2 separate regions of the Homo sapiens genome follow, and region 2 is reported to be linked to region 1. Evidence: microRNA targets listed by miRTarBase, many of them from high-throughput screens and not tested one by one. Region 1 holds a microRNA gene; the other region holds the end of a gene's coding sequence.

Region 1 (3,213 bases):
CAGATAATATATACTAAAACCATTAACGTCACACATAAGGATTATAATATATCAACAACTTCAAGCTGGGCAGAGAATTTCTGGTATCACAGTTCACTTCTATGGGTCTTTGCTTTGCAATTCAACTGAAATTAAAAACAGAAAAACTCTCTATTGGTTTTGAAGCATATCTCCCATGATTTTTTTCCTATTCCCCTCCCCTCCCCGAGTCATCTGCCCTTTATTACTTGCCTTGGTCAGAGGGAGAATATAATTTTAGAAAAACACAAGCAGTAAAAAGCAATTTCTATACCAAGGAAATAATAATGGTGATAATCCAGATCACATAGAAATTAAATCTACTTTCCTAAACAGTAAAACCAGCTAGCTTTGCATGTGTTCATACCATATGATTAATATTAAAGCATAAGGCAACCGGCCGGGCGCGGTGGCTCAAGCCTGTAATCCCAGCACTTTGGGAGGCTGAGGTGGGCGGATCACGAGGTCAGGAAATCAAGACCATCCTGGCTAACACGGTGAAAACCCGTCTCTACTAAAAATACAAAAAAAAAAAAAATTAGCCGGGCATTGTGGCGGGCGCCTGTAGTCCCAGCTACTCGGGAGGCTGAGGCAGGAGAATGGCGTGAACCTGGGAGGTGGAGTTTGCAGTGAGCCGAGATCTCACCACTGCACTCCAGCCTGGGCGATAGAGCGAGACTCCGTCTCCAAAAGAAAAAAAAAAAAAAAAAAAAGCATAAGGCAGACACTACCAGCACTGCACCCTCATTAGCCAGCCAGCTTTGCAGACTCACCACCCCCACAGGCTGTCCTGGAGGTTCCTACGCCTGCAGTGGGAGCTAAGAGGTCAGCTGTTGCCCCAGAGCCGACCCCAGTAACCTTTGCAGCTTCCCTGAGGGCTTCAGGGACCTGCACCCTGTTTAGTGGGCACAGAGAAAATGGCTCATGTCCTGGAAATACCCAGCCTGGCTCCATTGGGCTGTAAGTAGTTCCTGGCAAAATTCCTCATTAGGTAACAATTTGGATGGTGGTGGAGATGTGTCCCTCCTACTTTACCCAAGAGGTGGTAGCGGTGTGGCCTGTGGGAATTTTGAGGGCAGCGGGCAAAAGTCATTCCAGTCCCAGGGCTCAGCTCCAGCAGCGCCCAGGGGCATCTCAGAAGCAGCTACATCATCATCTGTACCACCCCACGCCCTGTGCTTGTTTAGGGCTGAGATCCTATTGGGAGGCATTTGGGGAGGAGGTGAGCTGCGCTGGCAGAAGGTTCAGGGCCGGTCACTGGGGATTTTCCTGCCACTCACATCCCCTTCTTTCAAGTCTTCTTTAACTCTGCACAGATGGGAGTAACAGAAGATGCTGGTTTCCACCTCATCATTTTTTACCTTCTCACCCCCAGAAATTAATCTTCGCATAAACCTCAGGACCAGCACAATGCCTGTCTCAATAAAATGTTAGTTTCCTTTCCTTCTGTATCTCCTGCCTTCCCCTTCCTGGCCACCTAAGACACAGGGCCGTTATGTTGCGGTGCCCTACTTCGCAGCACCCCCAGACCTGCCCAGGGCTGCTCCCCATGCCAGAACCCTCCCTGTCCCCTAAGAACCTGACTATCCTTTGTTTCATTCCCTAAAAGCCTTACTTTTCAAGGCTGAGGCTGCAGCATCCTTTATACTGGTATACACTTTCATGTTTACAAGTGTCATTGGGCATCTACTGGTACTCATCTTAGTTACCCTTGTAACAGAGCCCTTAGATGTCAAACCAAAGCAGTGACTGACACTGAGATTTGTGGCTGCCTGGGTAGGTAGAGAAGAGAGAGAGAGTAGAGTTGACCATGTTTCTCAGCTCACAAGTTCCTATGATGGCTTGGAACCCTGACCAGCATTTTCTTCTGAAGCAACACCCTCGTGGTATGTTCAGCCTTTTTCTAGATCTCTCCAAGACAGAGAAATACTTGTTGCTCCTGCATTGAGGTTGGGCAGATGGGCATTACTGGGGCACTAGTGGCCAAGTTGCCCTGATCCACCCACCTGAGACCAGGTATGTGTGTGGTGGTGCAAGCCACTGCTTTTTCAGGCTGGTGCTGCTGGATGAGAAAGTCCCAAAGTTCTATCATTGAAGGAGCAGCACAAGAGTGAGGACAAATACCTTCACAGGCAGCAAGAAAGTGGTACACAGCAGGGAGGGCAGTGGGCACCTGGGGGAAGAGCAAGGCCCGAGGAGTGAGGGGAAGCAGGCCAACCTCGACGATCTCCTCAGCACCTGAACGCCAAGGCTGGGGAGATCCTCGAGGTTGGCCTGCTTTCCCTCCTTTTCTTACAACTTCTGGAGAAGCGTCAGCCCTCTGCAGGGAGGCGGCCAAGCTGGCAGGCGAGTCGGCGAGGGTGTCATTGCTTATATGGCTGCGGGGACCGAAGCTAGGAATAGACGCGCTGAGGGCTAGGAGGGCTCCGACCGGACGGAAGGATGCCGCATCGCGGGTCGCTGCCCGGAGCTGTGCGAGTTCGGTGCTCAGCCCCAACGGCGCTTTAGGCGGGTCCCCTAGGTTCTCGCCCTTGCGCGCGCAGCCAGGACAGTGTTTCTGCGCTTCCTGAGGCCAAAGCGGGTCTCCCCGTTTTTTCCTCTGGGGATGCCAAAAGCCACTGGAAAAGACAGGAAGCTGTCGCCCCGTCGCATTCTCAGCAAGATGAGGCCGAGTAGGCAGCGCCACCTCTCCCGAGCGCCCGCGCCCCGCTGCCCCAGCCGGGGAGGGACTGGAGGTGAAGTCGCAGGTGCGCTCCCCAGGGAATATCCGGGCTCGCAGACCACGCGGCACCGCCCCCGCCTCGCCCCGCTGCTCCTCCTCCCCCATTCCAGGTGTCTCCTTTTCCGCTTGCCCCTTAAACGTCCCCCTTCCGCAGGGGTCCTGCGAACCCCATCCACTGCCATGGCTCATTCTAACACCTTCACTGGGTGTCTTTTTGCATAACACTTAAAATAAAAATGGATCTGAATCTGATCCCGGCTTCCAGCTTACAGGACATGTCGAGGACAGAGGCACAAGTGAAAGTCCACCCAAGGAATGCAGTCAGCAAAGCCACGGTGTGGGGAGCTCTCTCCAGAGGGTAGGGGAGAAACCCAAAGAGTAAAAGAGACTTTAAAACCTGCCAACCAATCCCAACCTGATGTCCTAATTTGAATCCTGATTCAAATCAACTGCTTTTAATGGAAACTTAAAAC
Region 2 (3,000 bases), not on the chromosome of region 1:
TGTATCCTCGGTGCCCTGCCTGGCGTGCCGGAGCAGTTCTCGGAACGTGCACTTCCTTCTCTCCCTCTCGTGCCCTCCTGATGATGGACACTGACCCTACCCCTCCCTCCGCAGATGACATGGGCGATGAGCAGCGTGGCAGCGAGGCGGGCCCAGACGCCCGCAGCCTGGGTGAGCCCCTGGTAAAGCGGGAGCGCAGTGACCCCAACCACTCCCTGCAGGGCATCTAGCAGCCCCGGCCGGCGCCTCCTCGAGGTTCCAAAAGATGCCGCCTGGTCACTCTGGGAACCTGGATTTCACCGGCTCCACCAAATTAGTGCCTCTTAGATGATGTGATGTTTACTTTGACTCAAGCGGGGGCTCCCGGGGTCAGTGTTCAAGAAGGAAAGCAGTTGTTGAAGCTACAGAAGCCCAGGCCAGGGCTCCCACTGGCTGTAGCTGTGCTCTGGGTCCCCAGGTCCCTGCGCAGCCACCAGGGCCCCACCAGACCATGGGTTCCTTATTCTGGACAAACCCTCCTCTGCTGGAACCCTGGACTTTGGCCCCAGTCCCTTTAAGAGCTGAAAGGGCTGTGCTGAGAGCACTGGCCTCTGCACTCAACTGGAACCAATTTTCACCATGATTTTAAAAATTAAAAAAACCTGGCAGAGCCCGACTAGAAAGGGACGGCCTCTCCCCTCCTACCTGCCACCGCTGGGGAGGCACAGAGCTCGCCAGCGTCCCTGGAGTCCCCTCAGGAATGGAAAGTGGAGTGCCCTTGTCTGGTAGCACCATGTGGGAGGGACCCAGCTGGGCGCAGCGCCCTGTGGCCTTTTAGATCCAGACCTCCCTGCCGGATGCCCCGAGGCGGGAGGCCGGCTGTGCTGCAGGAACCCATCTCCAGATGCCAAAGGACTTGAGGGGCAGCTGACAATCGCTGTGTCCCGGCAGATCCGCAGCTCGAAAAAGAACAAGCCACAGAAACGGGCTCGCTCGTGCCAGGACACAGCAGTGTCTTTCAAAAAATCAAAACCAGAAGTTTTATCAGCAGCAGGAAGGATGTGGGACTCTGTCCAAGTTCACCGTCACCATCAAGCCACTGGCTGTGGAAGGAGTTTGTCCAACAGGGTCAGTGTCACAGCCACAACTTCAGAAAGCAGCCATCCCGCGTGTCGTCCAAACAGCAGTGCCTGCGTCCCGCTCCACGGAGTCTTCCAGAACACCTCCCTCTGAACTAATCCCGGAGCACCCCACCCCCAGCGAGTCCCACCTGGACCTCTTCAAAGTCAAAACTCTTCTCTCGGGACAAACAAATATTCGGGACTTTCGAAGCCCTGAACTTGAGACACCAAGTTTGTCTCCATGGAAACACGTAGCCGCTGCAGTTGGACAGCTGCGTGCTGGAGTTCTGTCCCCAAACCAACTGCAGAGAAGAAAGACGAGCCTCGGCCCAGGACGCGATTTCTAACGAAATGCAATAGTTTTCTCTTTTTGGAAAAATGTTTATACCAATAGTTTTGTGCGCTAATTGTTATTAGAACGTTTCTTATGAATGTGTACATTGCAGTATATTCAGTCCCAAATGTTTTGTTCTCATTCACACAGAAGGTACTAATGTCAGCTCACGTGGCCTTTAAAAACCTACTTCCCCGCCCGCAGGAGCTCAGAGCATCGCTGGGCCTGCGCCAGAGTGAGGGGTGCAGGAAGACAAAGACGCGTGCTCACTTTAGAAACGAAAAGCTGGGAATAATCACACTGTTTGTCTGGTCGTATAGCCCAAACCTTAGTTGAAATCAGACAGAAAGAATGTCTTTAAAATATACATCTCCTCTCCTTGGAGACACTGAAGCTCACAGTTAACGGATTGTAATGCCCGGCTTTTCCTCACTCCTGGTAACCAATACAAGCTGGTTTCTGCCTTAGGCTCTGGCCTGTCTTTCCGATCCACGAGGAGGAACAGAGGTGGCAGCGAAGCCACAAGCCTCTCAGGCCTGGTCTCATTTTTCATAGCAGTAAACACACTGAGCGTGCCCATTTTTGGACTCACTGTCCACACTCTAGGCCCTGTCCCCCCGCCGTGGGACACCAGCCTGCCGGGCCTGCCCCACTCAAGACCCAGAGGGGAAACCACAGAGGTGCCCCCTGCACTTGCCTGCGGGCTCCCTGGGGATGTTCTAGTGCCTTCCGGAAGGAGCCTGGGCCCCTTACTTCCTTAGCAAGGCCTATCCTGAGCCAGTGATGGCGCAGAAACCGTTCTTTGTCCAGGATGGTCAATGGCTCCTGTTTACACTTTGGGTTTTTTTCTGTTGTTTGTTTGTTTTTTTAAGAGACGGTCTCATTCTATCACCTCGGCTGGCGTGCAGTGGCACTATCATAGCTCACTACACCCTCAACCTCTTGAGCTCAGGTGATCCTCCCACCTCAGCCTCCCCAAGTAGGTGGGACTATAGGCGTGCGCCACCACATCCAGCTAATTTTTTTTTTTTTTTTTTTTAGAGATGGGGGTCTTCCTGTGTTGCCCAGGCTGGACTCAAACTCCTTGGCTCAAGCGATCCTCCCACCTTGGCCTCCCAGTGTGCTGAGATTACAGGCGTGAGCCACCGCCCCAGCCTCCTGTTTACATTTGTTACAGGCTAGACCCACTCGGATCTAGCGGAGGAAGCGGGTGTGCCAGTCTCGGATGCGAACCCCTGGTTGTCCGCAGGGTTTACTCGGGCCAAACTTCAGAATCATTGAGAATCAGTGCATGAGCTTGCTCAAAAATGGCCGATTCCTGGACCCATTTCACAAGGAGCATGACTCGGTGAGATTCGGGTAGGAGCCAGGAAGCGTGTTGTTGCTGCCATTCCCTCTCAGGGGACTGTGGTGCGGGGCTATAGGACTTTGAAGAAACCCTACAGAGGAGAGCAATGGGCTCAGGAACCAGGCAGGGCCCACCTGCGGGAGGGAGGGTGGCCCACAGAGGCTAGTACAGTTGCTGGTCAGCCAGGCCAGTTTCCCGAGTGCCAGGCCAGTGCCCCG

The links. Region 1 holds the annotated microRNA hsa-miR-3150b-5p (CAACCUCGAGGAUCUCCCCAGC, at 2,269-2,290, opposite strand). A microRNA usually pairs through its seed, bases 2 to 8, with sites in the 3' UTR of a target mRNA and lowers its output. Matches are read on the target gene's strand: a 7mer-m8 pairs with bases 2 to 8, a 7mer-A1 pairs with bases 2 to 7 and ends in A, and an 8mer does both.
Region 2: miRTarBase lists RFX2 as a target of hsa-miR-3150b-5p. Seed matches in the 3' UTR shown: 7mer-m8 at 252-258.

Annotation. Positions count from the first base shown.
Region 1 is chr8:95,070,693-95,073,905 of GRCh38, forward strand. MIR3150B (microRNA 3150b) reads right to left here and starts at 2,304; the gene lies at 2,219-2,304. MIR3150BHG (MIR3150B host gene) reads right to left here and starts at 2,490. Exons shown (of 2, transcript NR_132986.1): 1 at 2,237-2,490. MIR3150A (microRNA 3150a) reads left to right here and starts at 2,222; the gene lies at 2,222-2,301. It overlaps LOC124901980 (a long non-coding RNA gene), which reads right to left and starts at 1,561. Exons shown (of 2, transcript XR_007061013.1): 1 at 1,054-1,561; 2 at 1-125. It also overlaps a transcript of NDUFAF6 not described here. RefSeq lists a silencer at 2,697-2,796.
Region 2 is chr19:5,992,065-5,995,064 of GRCh38, reverse strand. It overlaps RFX2 (regulatory factor X2), which reads left to right. Exons shown (of 18, transcript NM_000635.4): 18 at 115-1,901. The coding sequence ends at 230. All of the region lies in intron 1 of RANBP3-DT (RANBP3 divergent transcript), which reads right to left. Among named protein-coding and RNA genes, the nearest start is that of RANBP3-DT, 15 kb to the right of the region's middle.